Regions from separate parts of the Homo sapiens genome. Here regions 1 and 2 are each reported to be linked to region 3. Evidence: microRNA targets listed by miRTarBase, many of them from high-throughput screens and not tested one by one. Region 3 holds a microRNA gene; each other region holds the end of a gene's coding sequence.
Evidence for each region. The annotated mature microRNA hsa-miR-125a-5p reads UCCCUGAGACCCUUUAACCUGUGA and lies in region 3 at 3,296-3,319, shown strand. An mRNA with a match to its seed (bases 2 to 7 or 8) in the 3' UTR can be bound and repressed. Matches are read on the target gene's strand: a 7mer-m8 pairs with bases 2 to 8, a 7mer-A1 pairs with bases 2 to 7 and ends in A, and an 8mer does both.

Region 1 (6,011 bases), not on the chromosome of region 3:
CAGCCCTCCAAAGCCATGCTGGCTATGTATAGCAGGCTGATGGTCCTGGTATCCCTGCTAAAGGTACAACTGCCCCTGGGCCAGGGAATAGCACTTCTGTACAACTGGACACATGCTGGGAAGTCACTGTCTCCAATGCTTCACGAAAGACACATTTTGCTGTTTTAGCACATATCAGAAAACCAACTTTATATGATTGCAAGATATGAAAAACATAAATAGCCTTGGCTTTGTTAAGTTCCCAATGGTATGGAAATTTCATAAAATTTTTAGAAAATGCTATTGTCAAAGATGCATACTGACCAATTTTTTTTTTTTATTTTTTATTTTTATTTTTTTTTAGATGGAGTCTTTCTCTGTTGCCCAGGCTGGAGAACAGTGGCATGATCTTGGCTCACTACAACCTCTGCCTCCTGGGTTCAAGCAATTCTCCCACCTCAGCCTCCCAAGTAGCTGGGACTACAGGCGCCCACCACCACGCCTGGCTAATTTTTGTGTTTTTAGTAGAGACGGGGTTATACCATGTTGGCCAGGCTGGTCTCGAACTCCTGACCTCGTGATCCACCCACCTCAGCCTCCCAAAGTGCTGGGATTAGAGGCGTGAGCCACCGCGCCCGGCCCTGAGTATTTTTGGGTGAAATGACAGATGCCTCGGATGTTTTCAAGTACCATAGTATGAAAACGCTGGGTAAAGATAAAGAAAACAAGATCGCAAAATGTAGGCAATTGTTAAAGCTGGCTGATATAGTGGTTCATTAGGCTATTTTTCTCTACATTTGAAAATCTGTTATAAAAAATTTATAAGTATATAAAGGGAGAATCTATATAATTCATAATATAAATTTATATTTATATTATATTATACCTGGGGGGGGCCAGGCATGGTGGCTCATGCCTGTAATCCCAGCACTTTGGGAGGCTGAGGTGGGAAGATCCCTTGAGGCCAGGAGTTTGAGACCAGCCTGGGTAACACAGTGAGACCCTCCCTGTCTCTACAAAAAATAAAATTAAAAAAAAAAGAAAGAAAAAGAAAAAAAATGAGGGGGATATATGAAGGAAAAAAGTACATAAATGCTCTTTTAAAAGAAAAAAACAGATTCCCTAACCACATTATTTTCTATCAGTAGGTAGTAGGTAGTGTTTTCTAAACTTTGAGGCTGGTGACCAACAACTTGGGTCACTTGTCCTACTGAAAGTGGTAGATCTTGTGTTCTCAGATAAATTCCTCTAAAATTCTAAAACAACCCTTTAAAGAAATAAATACAATAGGGAAGTAACCAAGTCAACAAGTGGGACAAACTCAGACTGTACGTACAGGAGTAGTTAGATGGATCAGGAAAGAGGTGCTTCACAAATGGCACCACAAAATATTAAAAATTCACAGGTTTTTTTTAAAGCACCTCTAATGTGCCTCTCCAAAAACATAAAAAGATGTCAGAAAATAAGGAAACATCATCTGCTGTGTCACAGTACAAATTACAAATCATTTAGGTTTCTAATTTTAGCATCAGATTCTTTAAATACTATTATTGATCTGCTAAGAATCAATGTTCTTGAATTCAGCCACTCTTATACAAGCCACAAGTAATGTTTTCAACAAAACCATTACAGATTCCCAAATTGTGATGTTCTCATTTTCACTTAAATGCTGGACTGTAAAAGAATAAATTACAATCTCCAGTTTAAATGGTCTTTATAATCTTTTTCTAGGAAGACTGAATAATTACTTTCCTAGAAATCTAAATTAAGAGCTTCCTGAAAACTTAATGAGTTGCGGGAAATAGAAACATGACATTTATTACTAGCCTGAACAATACCCAATTATCTCTCCTCCTCATTCTCCCTAAAGGCAAAGCCTGATTAAGAACCACCATGGTTTGGTTCTCCAGCAACTTTTATTGGCCAAAGGATGCAGAAGGATATATGGTGTCTGTGGTTTAATTAACAGGATCGTTTATAAAACAACTTTACATTTATCTTATTTTTAAAATTCTTGCTTTTGAATAAGCTGATGTGTTAGAATAGACATGCTCCTATCCCATGCAAAAAGCTGTTCAAAAATGAGCAGCTTGCAAATCTATCATAAATGAGACATTGAATAAAATATTCTTACAGTGAGGTCTAAGAAGTAGTTCAGTCTGAGAATTTGCTTCAGATACTTTTTGAAATAAAATATTCAAGGCATAAAAAAAGCAAAACTCAAAATATCTAAAACAGATACATACTGATATTTTTATCCTAGTCATTTCCCAGAGTTTTTATGTGTCTCTGTGCTCTGCTGATTAAAATAAACAACAAAAGCAGTAGGCATCTTCTAACTAAAAGTTAATTTACTAGTCTTCAACTAAAAAGTCACAGTGGAAGAACATATATAAGGTGAAGAAAGCTTTTTAACCTTTCAGATTTAAATAATACTGCATTTCAACTTTAAAGAAAGGTTCCACCATATATTTTTTGCACTGACATTTTAAAATACAAGAACAAGTCTTTGTAATACAATATATACTTCAATATACCCAATATACCTTATATGAATTAAAAACATGTCAACTGGATAACTGTAGTAAGGCATTTAAGTATTCAGCAGAAGCCATAAAGAAATTTCTTAATGAGTGGTGTCCATTTAATATTAACTGGATTTAGTAGGTTTCCTTAAAATGAACAGGAAACAAAAGATGTGAAAAACAGGCAGTGATGCCATTATACTGAATTCCAGAAAAAGCACAGTACAATGTGTTTTCTAGCAGGGAGACCAGCAAACTGGAAGTGGATGAGCGGCCCCAGCTTACATGGTCTATTGTATTTGATCAACTGCTGAGAGAAGTATTAGTAGCCCAGTAGGTTTGGGTAAAGGTACCAGAATCCTTAGTGCTAGTCTCACAGCCAAAAACAGAGCAGGTACTCCAGATATACTTCCTGAACTGACCTGGATGAAGAGGCTTTAAAATCAACAGAGCTGGACAGTATAAAGTTCACGGAAAAACTCAATTTTTCATTTTATTTTGGTATATTAGTGAATGTCTACTGATCTAGTATTTCAAGTGTGGATCACGTAAACACCATGTAGAATGTAGTAAACGGAGTTAAATAAGAAAACACACTGGCTATCAATGCCAGAGTCTTTGAATATCAGGTCATAAATATAACCAATTGTGCAATATAACCAACATGATGAGAAAAGCACACCTCACAATTGACAATTTTAGTTCATATGATTAAAAAAAATAAAATCTGAAACTGCATTTAGTGCCACATTCTATCATATCATACATCAGATTCCATGCTGTGGAGCCGCACTGGGCTACAGGACATACAGTACATATAGCATGTTTTAAACCGAAAGTGAAAGGAAAAATATGAAACAGAAAATTTTTACATACACATCTAACGGTGTTGTCCATTTAATTCGATTTATATGATTTGCTGTGCCACTTTGACTGGCTTGCAGAACACCCCAAATTCTCTTTTCCCCATAAAGATCTACTTCCATACAGAGTAGAAAAAGATGGTGGTAAAAAAAACTTCAGATTCTTCAGGTTCCAACGATTGTGTCCCAAATGCCACTGTATGAACACCTAAAAAATATTAAGAACAATTTCAAAATCTGCATAACTATAAATGCAAAAGTAAATACAGCTTAAAGCCTAAAAGAGAATTCGTGAATATCTTGTCTTTTAACACTTGCCTGTGCCTACTACATGATGTCGACTATAAATAAAACGTCCACTGTGGTAAATGGGAAAAAAGAAGAAGCTTTAAAAAGTTAAAGGGAGACATTTGTCAATTTTATAAATAGGCCTCCTGTTTTAGCAAAAGGCACATTCATTTAGACCTCAATCAATCCAGGAAGGGCTCCTCACTGACATAAGGAATCAGGATATCTCACCCTTCCCATCAACCACCACCTGCCCTTCCTTTCTTTCTGAACAAGAGCATAAGAATTTCCTATAGAGTATAAATTCTTTCAGTTAGAACATCCAACTTTAACTTATGGGTTCTTCTCCTTCTCTTTTTTTTTTTTCTGAGACAGTTCTCACTTTATCGCCCAGGCTGGAGTGCAGTGGTATGATCTTGGCTTACTGCAACCTCCGCCTCCCAGGCTCAAGCAATTCTCCTAAGTTTCATGAGTAGCTGGGACTACAGGTGCACGCCACCACGCCTGGCTAATTTTTTGTATTTTGTAGAGATGATGTTTCACCATGATGCCTAGGCTGGTCTCGAACTCCTGAACTAAAGCAACTGGCCCACCTCAGCCTCCCAAAGTGCTGGAATTAGAGCCACTGCACCCGGCTGGGATCCCCTCTTTTTCATACTGCAGCTTCCCAAAGCTTTAACAGGCCTCTGCACTTGAGCTTGCCAGGAACTCAGGGCAGGGAGGTGTCCAAACCCACCTGTGTGCTCTCCTAACAACCACACTCCTGAGCGTTCGGGGCCTGTGCGCGCCGCGGTGACCTCAGCTGTCTCAAGGCAGCATCTCCGTACTGAATACCTGAGCCCATTCTTTCTGGGTCCAGCTCACCTAAGGACCAAGCAAGTCTTCTTTTAAAAAAGGCTTTTATGTTTCTTTGATTCCAAAAATAGATTAAAAAAAAAAAAAGCAAAGTACAGAACACTGTGTATATATCCCACCATTCTGAATAAAGGGAAAAAACTATATATATGTTTGCTTGCACCGGCACAAAACATCTCTAGCAGGATACATAAGGAACGGCTGATTCGGAGGAGTTCTAGATGGCTGAGGACAGGAGGGGGTGGTAACAGGGGGACTTTTCATTGCATACTCTTTTATACTTCTTGAATTTCAAATTATGTGAATACATTATTTATATAAAATAATTTAAAATTAAATTACAAAGATATAATTTTTCACTTATTAGATGGGCCAAAAGTCCAAGTATGATGATACTACATGCTGTGGACATGGCTTTAGTGAAATAAGCCCATCACTAGGAGAAAATGTGACAGCCTCTACACCAAGATCCCAAATGCTTATGTTCTCTGACCCAGCAATTCCACTTCTGGGCATTTGTCTGACACACAGACTCATGCACATGTAAAAAAAAAAAAAAAATATATATATATATATATATATATATATATATATATATATATATATATATATAATTATTTACTGTAACATTACTTATAATAGCAAAATACTGGCAACAACCCAAATGTCCAAAGTAGACTGGCTCATGAATTATGGTAACACATAGGTTGAGCGGTCCTTATCCAAATATAGGTTGAGCAGTCCTTATCCAAAATACTTGAAACCAGAAGTATTTTGGATTTTTTCAGATTTTGAAATATTTCCATTATACTTACCAGTTCAGCATCCCTAATCTGAAAATCTGAAATTTGAAGTGCTCCAATGAGCATTTCCTTTCAGTGGCAATGTTGGCAATTAAAAAGTTTCAGATTTTGGAACATTTTGGATTAGGGATACTCAACCCATATTACACATTACACACACACATTATGTATGACATTATGTTATATATATGTACCTTATGTATTATATGTATATACGGAAACTATAAGCTGATTTGTAATGATTTGTAGGTTATACAATAGTAAGTAAAAAAGCAAGGCGTGGTAGTCTATCATATGATACATTTTATATAAAAAAAGGGAAGAAAACAATGGTTTCTGAATGTATTACCCATTAAAAAAATAAAAAGTACTGCTGAAGAATCCTAATTTATACTCTTATATTTTTTTCACCTAGAGGTACTTATGATTTTGATGATCTCAGAAAAAAACACATCTTGGAAGACTGCATATGAGTTGTTCTATCTGATGCATTCAGGGATACAATATTAAAATAGCAAGGTCATGTAAATACAACCTCATGCTGAGCTTAATAATACTCAACAGTAAGCCAACTGTAAGGATTTATGTAACAGTGTCTTGGTTTTTGTACCAAGCTTAGTAATTTTTTTTTCTTTCTGATAAAAAAAAATACAAAAAGATGACATGTCCACTTCTGTTGAAACCCAGCCCTTCTACCT
Region 2 (6,011 bases), not on the chromosome of region 3:
CTGCCTCTGTCTTAGAGAAATCCTAAGACTTCTTTAAGAGGAAAATGAATTGGAACCGTAGTGGGCATTAGTCTATAATATGATGCTCTCCTCCCTGCCAGAACTTCAGGACAAATATTTGAAATGGCCTATCTTGGCCTGGTGTGGTGGCTTATGCCTGTAATCCCGGCACTTCGGGAGGCCAAGGCTGGAGGATTGCTTGAGCCGAGTTTAGACCAGCCTAGGCAATATGGAGAGACCCCATCTCTATAAAAAAAACCACACAAGAAAAATTAGCTGGCTGTGGTGGTGCATGCCTGTAGTCCCAGCTACTCAGGAGGCTATAAGCTCACAGCCAAAGGGGAGAGGTGGAATCCAGGTAGGCCTAGTTCAGGAGCTGGTATGTGCTTATAGTTCAGGCTATGGGGATGAGAGACCTTACTGGCATTTGTGCTTGTCATCTTTATCAGCCAGTGAATGCAGGGCGAGGGGCTTAAACAGCCAGAGCAGGACTAGGTCCCTGAATGTCAGCCAGACTCAACTGTGTGCTCAACTTCACTCAAATGTGAAGCCCAGCAGGGCAGTGAGCGCCTCTTGCGTTTGCAGGTTACTACCGGTACTACAACAAGTACATCAATGTGAAGAAGGGGAGCATCTCGGGGATTACCATGGTGCTGGCATGCTACGTGCTCTTTAGCTACTCCTTTTCCTACAAGCATCTCAGTGAGTGCCTCTGCGGCGTCTTGCCTTTAGTTCCCATGAGAGGGTGGTGGTGACTGATTTCATTAGATACAGCAGCCCACCTTCTTCTGAGGCTGAGGGACCTTTAGTTAAAGTTCCTTATGTTTCCACCTAAAAGAATTGGAGGGACCTATCAGAGTACAGTATGTGGGATATTGTTTGAAATGAGAAAATTGTGACAAAGAGAACACAGGAAAATCAAGATGAAGCCAGGGTAAAGAGAGTACTTAGAAGCATTCTTTAAAATACAGCACACTGTGAAAATTTGGCTCGATTTTCCTAGTAGCCAATGCAGAAAGAGAAATGAGTTGAGTGGGATAATCTGGTACCCCAGAAAAGCATGGCTGTTCCGGCTCTGAGGCTTGAGAGGAGCTTGTCTGGTGGGAGATTGGCGGGAGGTGTCGGTGGCAGCCTCTGACTAGGCTGTTTCTGACAGTGTAGTGTACACCCCCTACCCCCACCTCACTCCCATTCTGTGGCACCAGGGCGGTCCTGCCTCTGAAGGACGGGTTCTCTGGGGCTGTTTGTCTGAGCGTGTGTTCCCTCTGTTCCTTCTGGAAAGAAAGTGGTTGGCCAGGTGGCAGGTTGGCTCCTGAGGTGTCTTTGTGCCCCCCGGGTCTGCTGATTCTGCAGAGACACCGGCAGGCGGGTCATGGGTCATCTCTGAAGGGAATTCTCAGGAAGGCTTTGTGTGATCTCAGCCTGCTTCCTGCCATGCTGTGCCTTCACTGTAACCTTTTAAGATACTTACCATCTTGCCTTCCTGACTTCAGAGCACGAGCGGCTCCGCAAATACCACTGAAGAGGACACACTCTGCACCCCCCCACCCCACGACCTTGGCCCGAGCCCCTCCGTGAGGAACACAATCTCAATCGTTGCTGAATCCTTTCATATCCTAATAGGAATTAACCTCCAAATAAAACATGACTGGTACGTGTGCTGATTGCCTGCCTGTCTGCCGTAGCCATTATCCCATGTTCCAGGGGCTCCTGTGGCACAAGGTGGGGGGAGGTCGTCTTTCCAGGCCGTTGACCGGTGAAGGCCTTTGTGGACTTCCCAGACCACCACTCTGGTCGTGTCCCAGCTCCCTGGAGGGCAGGGTGTCATCCAGACCTTCCCGAAGCAGCAGTGCCGAAGTCCGTCCCTTGCCATGAGTGCTGTGGGCAGGTGCATTTGCAGACATTCTGGCCTTTAGTTGGCTGGCCCTTTATGGTGTAACACAAAGGCTTGCGTACCTGAGAGCGCCAGATCCCACCCCGGCTGTCCTGTGGCTCCAGGCAGGGATGGCCCGCATCCTGTGTTTCTGCATCACCCTGGGGCATCAAGGGCTACAGGGTGAGGTGACCCGGCACTGTCTGGAGAGACCTCAGGCAGCACTCACGCCCAGGCTGCAGGGATTGTGGCCCTCCGGCTGAGGCGGCTTCTCTAACAGGAGGCTTAGTGGGTTGGGGGTGATGGGGAAAAGTGAGGGGCTATGGCGGCCCCTCCCTGCTTCCTCTTCATCAGAGCCTCATTGGGGGTGGGATACTGTGCCCCAGAAATAGGTGCCACCAGACATCTGAGCTGAGGTGGAGGACCTGCCTGCTGGCTCCACAGATCAGACTCCCAGACTTGACCAGCTGCTTGCAGGCCTTCTGGGCAGCTGCACTTCCCTTTGTGAGGCTGACATTTGTTGAAAGGGACAAGAAAGCTACGCCGTGATTGCAGCCAGTGTAAAAGGGTTGGCATGAGACCCTTAATTAATGAGACATGGCTTAAAAAACAAGCTTTAATCCATTTCATAAAAATTGTTCTTGCAATTGAACACAGCCAGGCCCACATGCCCAGCAGGTTGCAGGAGACAGTTTCACATTTTCCAGGCTCAGGACAGGGCAGTCTCCTCCACATGCCACAGGTGTCTGAGTGACAGTGTAGACGCCTGATGGGCAGGAGGTAGGCACAGATGATCTGAAGGGGTCATCTATTTAAAAGTCTGCAACTCCAGTTCAACGGACACCTTAAACACTGTCAGGCACGTACCCCAAGAGAAAATTAAGCCCAGAGAAGAAAACCTCAGGCTTGAGAGCCCTGTACCCCTCCTCAACCGCTGCCACCTGGGACCAGGGCCAGCCTGAGGCAATGGGGGCACCTGAATTTGCCCCAAAGGGCTCCCTCATTCAAATCACAGATATAGGCACAGCTTTAGGATTCAGCAGGGCAGGGAGGGAGGAAGCAGGCGTGAGCTGGCCACAGCTTTGAATGACCTACCAGCCCCTGGCGTCACCAAGAACTGGTGTTTAATGAGGGGAATGACCACCGCCACACAGAACTACCTAGCCAAGCCCCTCCCCAGCAGCTGCCTCCCTCCCTGGATGAGGGGAGTTGTGCCGGGAGTCCCAGAAAGGAGGCATCGATGCCCAGCCAAACATGATGTCGACTGCAGGGACCCACAGGACACATGTCCCTTTTTCAAAAAATACTAAGGCAAAATGATAGGAAACTAACAGACGTGGCCCCTCAGAGTGATGAAACCCACGTGTCTGCGGGCCAGCTCGAGCCACAGTCGCGCCAACAAGCGCATGAAACAGTTAAATGCACACTCCCAACAGCGGGGCCCCCGGGCTGCTCGGAGCTGGCTCCAGCTGCTGTCACTGTCCACTGAGAAAGGCCAAGTGCCCTTTGGTGCATCTGTTGGCGTAGTGTCCTTTCTCGCCACACTGGGAACAGCAGGAAGTGGGGGAAGAGGAGAGACAGACAACAACACTGTTCAAATGCAGTTTTCAACTAAGGGAGTGCCCACCAAATCCCAAATCATCCACCAAGTCCCCAGTCGGGACATGACTCTGAAATTCTCAGTGGTACAGAGTTTCTTTCAAATTAGAGGGTGAGGGAGCTCAGGATGGAAAGTGCAGTGGTGCAGAAACTAGCCAGCAACTCCGCAGATGCAAGGGAGAACAAGGCCGCCAGAAGGCGACCTGCTAGCGACCTGCTCTTTCAGGCCCACAACTCTCCCACCTGGACACATGGCCTGCCCAGGGAGGGACTCCCAAGTGGGTAGCAGGACAAAGAGAAGCCCGTGGCACCTGAGCTCCGCCACCCCGTCTGGGGACCAAGCCCTTCTGCACCACAGGCCAGTCACTTACCTCTGAGCCAAGGTCTGGGGTTCCCTGGCAGGAGATGGGAGGGAACAGCATCAGAAGTGTCCCAGCCTCCCCTCCCTTGGGGAGCCACTGCTGGGGACAGAGGGTGGGCTGTACCCAACGTTTTCCCTCGTGGCTGTGACACACCTAAGCTACCTTGGGGACAGGTTTTGATTACAGGATCAGAGAGATGGGACGATGCTTAGACTTGGGTAAGGGGAGCCTGCAGAGCCACATGACAAATCCAGCCCTGACCCTGCCTCATCCCAGTCCTGATTATCCAGGCCCTTCCATAGCTTCTCTTTACTCTATGACTCCTAAAACGGCAGCCTCAAGCACTGAACAAAAGGGTCAGGAGGCAGCTGGGGGCACTGACTCTGTACTGACACCCACCCCTGAGTCCCTGCTGCCCTGAGGGGCTCTGCCCAGTTGGCACCCAACACTCTTGCCAGCTCTATTCCCTGGCTCTGCAATTCCTGTTTTCTTTCTTCTATGTTGGCCAGGATGGTCTCGAACTCCTGACCTTGTGACCTGCTCCCCTCGGCCTCCCAAAGTGCTGGGATTACAGGCGTGAGCCACCGCACCCAGCTGTCCCTGTGTTTTCAACTTTGTCTGATCTGCAGGTGTGACTCTGTATGGAGAGGCTGCCGATGGGCTGTAGGGCTAACATGATGGCTGGGGGAGGGACCACACACCCTGCTCACGGCATCTGGCATGTCTGTCGGACCCCACAGCTGACTCTGGGGAATCCAGGACTTACATGAAGTGTCTCTGACATTAATGGGGTGACAGGCTGTGGACAGGGGCGGTCAGCCCTACCTTTCTAAGGCTCCAGGACTTAAGGGCGCTTGCTGCACAGAAGTGGCCCCGCTTAACAGGCCTGGAGGGTGGCAAGATAACAGCTAAGTCTGCTCTACACAGTGCCCCACTTCCATGCTCTTTTATTTTTTTGGAGACAAAGAGTCTCAGTCTGTTGCCCAGGCTGGAGTGCAGTGGTGCAGTCATAGCTCACTGCAGGCTTGACCTCCTGGGCCCAAGCAATCCTCCCATCTAAGCCTCCCCAGTAGCTGGGACTACAGGCGTGCACCACCACACCCAGCCTGTTTTGTGATTTTTAATCTGGACTCATTCTTCAGAACTCCAGCTGTAGGAATTGTGTGCGCCTTGGGTTGAGAACATACTCTTCAAAGAGTACTGGGGGTTACTCCTGCCACGTGCCAGGGACACACCAATCCTGGGGCGATTTTAGATTAGAAAACTTAGTTTGTAACTTTCCAGCCTTAACCAAGGACATGAATACAGGCCTAGACTCACATAAGGGCCCATTAATAACGTCAAACTATCAAGAGATTTTCCTCCCCTTTCCCCGCTTCCCACAGAGCCAGGAGTGAACAGGACAGTTTTCGAGGAGGTTTCTTGAAGCTCACCCTTCCTGAGTCCCATTTTATGTACTGGGGGAGGGGATGGGGACAGGGGTGCTGTAACCCAGTGTCCTGTTTTCTCGGGTGTGCCCTGCAGGATCCAAGGATGCCCCCAGGACAGCCAGCGGCTCCAAGGGCTCACCCTTCCCTGGATCAGTGTTTCTATTTTGTTCCCGGCCTCTTGGGGGCTTCCCTCACCTGCCTGCAGGCCCCGTCCATTCACTAGGCAGGCGTTCTCACCATCCTTTACCGTGCCTCAGTGCAGTGTGGTAGGAAATAGGACAGTCTCTAGCCCACCACAGTGGATGGTAACTAGACTGTAACTTTATGCTTACAATCAGCAAAAATGAATGTTTTCATTTTTCTCATTTCACCAAACACATGGGGCATGAGGGAATGGCCACTGACGGTAAGGGAAGACCCCACCCTGTCCCCCAGCCCAGGGACTCACCTTGTAACAGGTGACCTGCTCCAGTGGCCGGGGTCCCCGGTTGCCCGCGCTGCTGTTTTGACTCTGCATGACCCCGATGACCTGCGGGGTTCTCTGCTGATTGGGAGAAGAGTTCTGACTCGTTAACTGGATCAAGGAGGACGACCTTTGTAATGGCGGATTGTTACTTTGCTGGAAAGAGTTACACAACACGGTTTTACTGTGGAAAACACGTGCACGCAGACTACCGATGGGGACAGGAAAAAAGAGGGCGGGACTCGTCCCGCAAACGGCAGGAAGCAGGGCTTCCACGACGGCCC
Region 3 (6,011 bases):
GGGGCTGCGGGGCTTTGAGGGGTCAAGGGTGAGCCGTGCCAGTGGGAGGGGGCCGAGGAGGAGGGGGAGGTTGTCTGGGCTGCCAGACAGGCCAGGGTCAGCGGCGGGGGCAGGAGATGTCTGGAGGAGGAGAGGCCCAGCATCCATGCTCCCTCGGGGACCCGGGATTCCAGGTCCCAGACCCCTCCTCCCTCAGATCTGGGAGTACACCACCCAGTCCCCCACCCATTCCAGAATCCGAGCCCCCAGCCCCCTTTTTTCCAGGATCCAGGAGTCTGAGCCCCCAGTCTGTTCTCTCAGACCAGGGAATCCACACTCCAGCCCCTAACTCCTTCAAAACCCCAGAGTTCAGAACCTCAGCCCCTCTTCCCAAGGAGCGCGGCCCCCAACCCTCTGTTCCTCTAGAACCCAAGCGTTCAGGCTCCGGCATCTTTCTCCCTTTGAAGCCTGCAGTTCTGGGGATCCCCAGGCCCCTCCTCCTCCGGAACCCAGGAGTCCCCACCTCCTCTTTAGCCCCAGCTGGAGTCCAGCCCTCCAGGGGTTAAGGGGGCGGGACCAGCTAGTTGCCATGGTGCCAGACTGTTTGGGTCTGCTCTCTGACCCTTGGGGGCTCCCCAGGGTCCGCAGAGAGGGGGAGGGGGACCTAGGCCTGGGGGAAGTCCAGAGCCTACCCCTTCCCCAAAGCGGGGCTATGGGCCCAGGGAGTTCGCGTTTCCACCAACGCCTTGTCCAGTGACCTTGAACAAGTCCTGACCCTTCTCTCTCCGCCTCAGTTTCCCCAAGGAGACACTGGTTGGCGGGTGGGGGAGATGCTTAGGTCCGGGGAATCTCTGAGATTCTCGGCTTCCCCTCTCCCCTCACCCTCCTCCTCAGGCCCCAGGCAGCCCCGGGGCATGCTGGGAACCCAGGCCTGGGCTCCGGGCCAGGTTGGTGTGGGGGGGTGGGGGCGGGGGCAGCCTCCTCCCTTCCCCTTCCTCCCCACCTTGGCCTGACTCTCGCCCCCGCCTGAGGGTCTGGGAGGTTGGGAAGGAGGGAAGGGGGAAGAGAGCTGGCCGTAGACCCGTCTCCGGCCCCCGCCTCCCCCTTTCCTCCTCCGCCCCTTTCCCGCCTCTCCTCCCCCTCCTCAGGTCGCTACCCCAGCCCTGGGCCCCTTCTCAAACCACCCCCACCCCACCCCCAGCTCCAGACCTGGCTCGAGCTGCGAGGGGGAGGGAGAGAGGGAAGGAGAAAAGAGAGAGAGAGAAGGGAGGGAGACCCAAAGAGAGAAGGGGGAGGGGAGGAAAGAGAGAGACCTAAGAGGGAGGGAAGGAGAGAGAGAGGGAGAGAGACAGAGACTGAGAGAGAGCAGGAGACGGAGGTGAGGGATGGAGAGAGGGAAGGGGCGGAGGGAGAGGAAGTGAGGAAAGACATCCGAAAAAAGGGGGTGGAGAAGGGTGAGAAAGAGGAGAGAGACTGAGAGAGGGCCAGAGAGAGAATGAGAGAGACAAAGAGGGGGAAGGGGGAGAAGGGGAGGATGAAAGACAGAAGGTAGAGGAAAAGCAGGAGAAAGAGGGGGAGAGAAGGAAGAAAACAGAAGCGGGGAGAGGAGAGAGGCGATGGGCAGAGAGAGAAGCCAGCGCAGAGCCAGGGAGGGATGTCCTGATGCAGGAGGAGGCTGGGAACCAGGGAAGGTGGAAAGAAAGAGGGAGAGAGAAAAAGGCAGGGCCAGAGAGACCTGGACTGCGAGAAAGGAACCGGAAGGTGCGCCTGGAGCAGGGGCAGCGAGAACCAGACAGTCCAGGAGGAGGGGCTGGGCACGGGAGAGACCCCAGCTGGAGGGGCTCAGAGCCCAGGGGTGGGGAGGGTGGGTGCTGGGTCCCGGGGTCCAGAAGCTGGAGAAGGCTGGGGACACCTCCTGGATTCAAGAGGGAGGACAGAGATGGGGCTGGGCAGACTTTGGGAGCCTCTTCCCCTCTCTGAGGCTCAGCCCCCTCACCTGCCAAATGGGGATGCTGAGGGCACCTCGCTCTCTGGAGTGGGAGGTGTCAGGGAGAGGACTGGTGCTCAGGGCCTGGTATGGGGTCAGCGCTGGGAGATTGTGGCTGTCATAGTTGTAAATGACCCAAAGAAGGGAGGAGAGAGGAAAGAAAGCACCTAGGGAGGCTCTGATGGTTGGCTAGCCCCTGGCCTCCTTAGCCCTGGGCCTGGAGTCTCTGCAGACTGACAGGAGGGTAGGTAGGAAGCAGGTGTGCCCAAAGGGCCAAATTACGAGACAAATGAGGTTCCCTCCCAGCCGGCACCCAGGAAGCCAGGTTTTCTATCAGGCCATGCCTTCCCCAGGAGGCCTGCCTGGCCGGAGGGAGGAGGGGCTGGGGGCAGGGACTCCTGGGTCTCTGGGGAGAAGGAGGCTTTGGATCTGGACTCATGAGTCTGAGGGAGGAAGGGGCTGAGTCCTTGGATTCCAGGAACATTTGGGGAGAAAAGGGCCAGAGGCCTGGATTCCTGGGTCTGTGGTGAGGAAGGGCCTAGACTTCTGGGTTCTTTAGGGAGGAGGGGGATGAGAGCCTTGACTCCAGGGTCCCTGATGAGGAAGGGGCTGAGGGCCTGGACTCCTGGGTTCCTTGGGGAGGAGGGGCCGGGGGCCCGGACTCCTGGGTCCTGGCACCCACCCGTAGAACCGACCTTGCGGGGCCTTCGCCGCACACAAGCTCGTGTCTGTGGGTCCGTGTCGGGGGCTCACCATCGCGGCTGGGGCCTCCCCGGCCCTCCCCCTCATCCCTGGTCCTCCTGGTCCCTGTCTGTCTGTCTGTCGGGTCTGTCCACCTGCCGCGCCCCCCGGGCTGAGGTAGGAGGTTGTATAGTTGAGGAGGACACCCAAGGAGATCACTATACGGCCTCCTAGCTTTCCCCAGGCTGCGCCCTGCACGGGACGGGGCCCGGCGGGGACCCCCAGCCCCACTCAGGGACCCTTAGCCCCACTGGGCTGCCCCAGGGACCCTGGGAGGAAGAGCCGGGCTCTTTTCTGTCCTTGTCCCTGCATCCCCTCCTTCCCCTGAAATCTGTTTTCCTTCCCTGTCTGTCTCCATCTCTGCTGTGTCTCTGTGGCTTCTGTGTCTCTTTCACAGTGGATCCTCTGACTCCCTCTTATTCTGGCTTTCTAGGTCTCTGCCCCTCCCGATATCTCTCTGTGTCTCTATTTCTGTCGTTTTTGGTCTTTCTGTCTCTGGCTCTCAGAATGTCTCTGTGCCTATCTCCATCTCTGACCCCCACCCCAGGGTCTACCGGGCCACCGCACACCATGTTGCCAGTCTCTAGGTCCCTGAGACCCTTTAACCTGTGAGGACATCCAGGGTCACAGGTGAGGTTCTTGGGAGCCTGGCGTCTGGCCCAACCACACACCTGGGGAATTGCTGGCCTGACTTCTGACCCCTGACTCCTCATACCCTTCCTCCAGAGCATGACATTTGACCACCAACTGAAACCTGACCTCTGACCCCAGACCACTGGCCCTTCCCCCGCCCTGTGGTGACTTCATAAAGGTTACTAGCTTCTCCCCTGGCCTTGAGACCCACACGATGGCCCTGCTGGCTCTGGCCAGTGCCGTCCCGTCTGCCCTGCTGGCCCTGGCTGTCTTCAGGGTGCCCGCCTGGGCCTGTCTCCTCTGCTTCACAACCTACTCTGAGCGCCTCCGCATCTGCCAGATGTTTGTTGGGATGCGGAGCCCCAAGCTTGAAGAGTGTGAGGAGGCCTTCACGGCCGCCTTCCAGGGCCTCTCTGACACCGAAATCAGTGAGGAGACCATCCACACTTCATCAGTGTCCTGGGGAAGGTGCAGAGGGAGGGCAGGAGAGGCCCAGAGGGTCAGGCTGAGGGACAGACAGAGAGAAACAGTCAGAGGAGAAAGGCTCAAAGACCATGAGAACAACAGAGACTTAGGGACAGAGAGACACAGACAGGGGAAGACAGCAGGGCAAAGACTCAGAGAGGGGAGGATGGAGAGTCAGAGAGGGGAAGATGGAGACTCAGAGAGGGGGAGGATGGAGACTCAGAGAGAGAGGAAGATGGAGACTCGGAAAGATGGAGACTCAGGAGTATGGAGAGTCAGAGAGGGGAGGATGGACACTCGGGAGGATGGAGAGTCAGGAGGATGGAGACTCATAGAAAGGGGAGGATGGAGAGTCAGGAGAGGTTGGAGACTGGAGAGGGAATAGAGACCCAGAGAGGGGAGGATGGAGACTCAGAGGGTGGAAGATGGAGACTCAAAGAGGATGGAAACCCAGAGAGAGGAGGACAGAGATGAGGCAGAGACTAGGGGAAGCAGGATAGCGACTGGTCGGGGGCAGAGACTCAGGGAGGATAGAGACTTGGGAGGGACTCAGGAAGCATAGCGACTGTGGGGCAAAGAGTCAGAGAGGGGAGGATACAGACTTGGGAGGGCAGAGACTCAGAAACAGAATGTTCGCATTAGGGACATGGTGTTGCGGGGAGCTGCCTCCCCCAGCCCCTGCTCCCTCCCTCACCGCCAGACTATGATGAGAGAAGCCACCTGCATGACACCTTCACCCAGATGACCCATGCCCTGCAGGAGCTGGCTGCTGCCCAGGGTGAGTGTGTGGGGATGGGGAGATGGGAGATGTGGACTTGGAGCCCCTAAGAAATGGGTATGTGGGAGGGCCCAGGGCAGAGGAAGGAGGCCCCCAGAGTTGGGCAGTGATCCGGGAGGGGAAAGCTGGGAAGACATTGAGCTCAGCTACTTGTCCAAACGAAGGCTGAAGGCAGCTCTAAGAGCCAGGGGCTGAAGGTGGTGAGGGGGAAGGGACGCTGCAGAAATTGCCTAGAGCTGGAAGTCCAGATGGGGTCGGGTAGGCATAGGTTCTGCCATGGCTGCATGGCTCACACTCTTACTGGCTATGAAGTTCTGGGTGTGTCACTGCCCCTCTCCTGGCCTCAACTTACCCATCTGTAAAGTGGGACAATCTTCTTGCCTCCTAGGATGGCCATGGAGCTCAGTGCAGGGGTTGGGGCTGCCTGATGAGCCTGATCTTAGGGAAGGCATCTTCCTCTAGGATAGAACACACACACACTCGCACACAGACACGCTCAGAGACATACACTCACACTCACACACACACACAGATTTCTTATAAAGTGATTCCACATTTTTGAGGTGTGAGGCAATTAGAGGGCGGGAAAACAGGAACAGCAGAGTGGATCACTCAGGTGACAGCAGTGAAAAGAGACAAGGTGTGACTGTCCTGGTGAGACAGGCACATGTGACAGCCTTGAGGTGTGTGGCTGTGCGAAGAGACCTCAGGGCTGGGGGCCACGCAATGCCGATGGGCAGCATGGGCGGTAATCATGCCTGATCACCATGGCCATGATCCCCACGAGGTGCCAGACCCTGGAACTGTGGAGGCTCGGAGTTGCAGGAGTTACAGAGCCCTGCGCTATAGAATAAACTGGCTTCCTCTTAGGTCCAGGAGCTCAGGGCTTATTCCCACACCCACAGTCGCTCCTTTTGCTTCCTGCTTTGCCCTCCAAGCGTCCTGTCAACAATCCCGGAAGAGGGAAGGTTCCCATCCACCCAGGGGGCATCCAGGGCCAGCCTGGAGAAGGCCTCAGCTGTGGCTCTCCCCATCTCCACCCTAAAGGGAGACCTGAGGCCCTAAACCTCTCCATGTGGGGGTGTGCAGGATTCCAAGAAATGCCCTTTCTCCCCACATAGGCTGCCTTGTTACAGAAGCTTTTGAAAAGATGAGGAACCTTTGGATCTGGGAATGGAAGCCTTCTGTGGGGCCGCATGGGGGACAAACTTGGAGGGGAGAGAGAAGAGGCTGGGTGAGGGTCCAGGCCAGAGCGGAGGCCCGAGTGGGGGCTGGGGCCGTGAAGGTGGAGAAGGGCCAGGGCCAGAGAGTTAGGTCTGCTGGGCTGTTTTGGGAAGCATAGAGAACAGCATCTGAGACAGGTCCTGCTCTGTGCCTGTTGGGCGGTGGGTCATCACCGAAATAAGGAGCCTGAGAGAAAGAGCCGGG

Region 1: miRTarBase lists RAB4A as a target of hsa-miR-125a-5p. The part of its 3' UTR that is shown has no 7-base or 8-base seed match.
Region 2: miRTarBase lists ATP5MF as a target of hsa-miR-125a-5p. The part of its 3' UTR that is shown has no 7-base or 8-base seed match.

The regions. Positions count from the first base shown.
Region 1 is chr1:229,301,370-229,307,380 of GRCh38, reverse strand. It overlaps RAB4A (RAB4A, member RAS oncogene family), which reads right to left. Exons shown (of 8, transcript NM_004578.4): 7 at 4,392-4,519; 8 at 1,487-3,575. The coding sequence ends at 4,404. Among named protein-coding and RNA genes, the nearest start is that of RAB4A-AS1, 33 kb to the right of the region's middle.
Region 2 is chr7:99,453,838-99,459,848 of GRCh38, reverse strand. It overlaps ATP5MF (ATP synthase membrane subunit f), which reads left to right. Exons shown (of 4, transcript NM_004889.5): 3 at 586-702; 4 at 1,494-1,654. The coding sequence ends at 1,522. The region is part of intron 2 of ATP5MF-PTCD1 (ATP5MF-PTCD1 readthrough); the gene reads left to right. It overlaps CPSF4 (cleavage and polyadenylation specific factor 4), which reads right to left. Exons shown (of 8, transcript NM_006693.4): 7 at 5,713-5,883; 8 at 2,476-3,417. The coding sequence ends at 3,349. Among named protein-coding and RNA genes, the nearest start is that of ATP5MF, 9.3 kb to the left of the region's middle. RefSeq lists an enhancer at 3,325-4,127.
Region 3 is chr19:51,689,973-51,695,983 of GRCh38, forward strand. MIR125A (microRNA 125a) reads left to right here and starts at 3,282; the gene lies at 3,282-3,367. SPACA6 (sperm acrosome associated 6) reads left to right here and starts at 3,358. Exons shown (of 9, transcript NM_001316972.2): 1 at 3,358-3,768; 2 at 4,506-4,583. The coding sequence starts at 3,555. SPACA6-AS1 (SPACA6 antisense RNA 1) reads right to left here and starts at 3,484. Exons shown (of 2, transcript NR_108100.1): 1 at 2,662-3,484. It overlaps MIR99B (microRNA 99b), which reads left to right and starts at 2,640; the gene lies at 2,640-2,709. It also overlaps MIRLET7E. RefSeq lists enhancers at 16-823, 360-459, 824-1,633.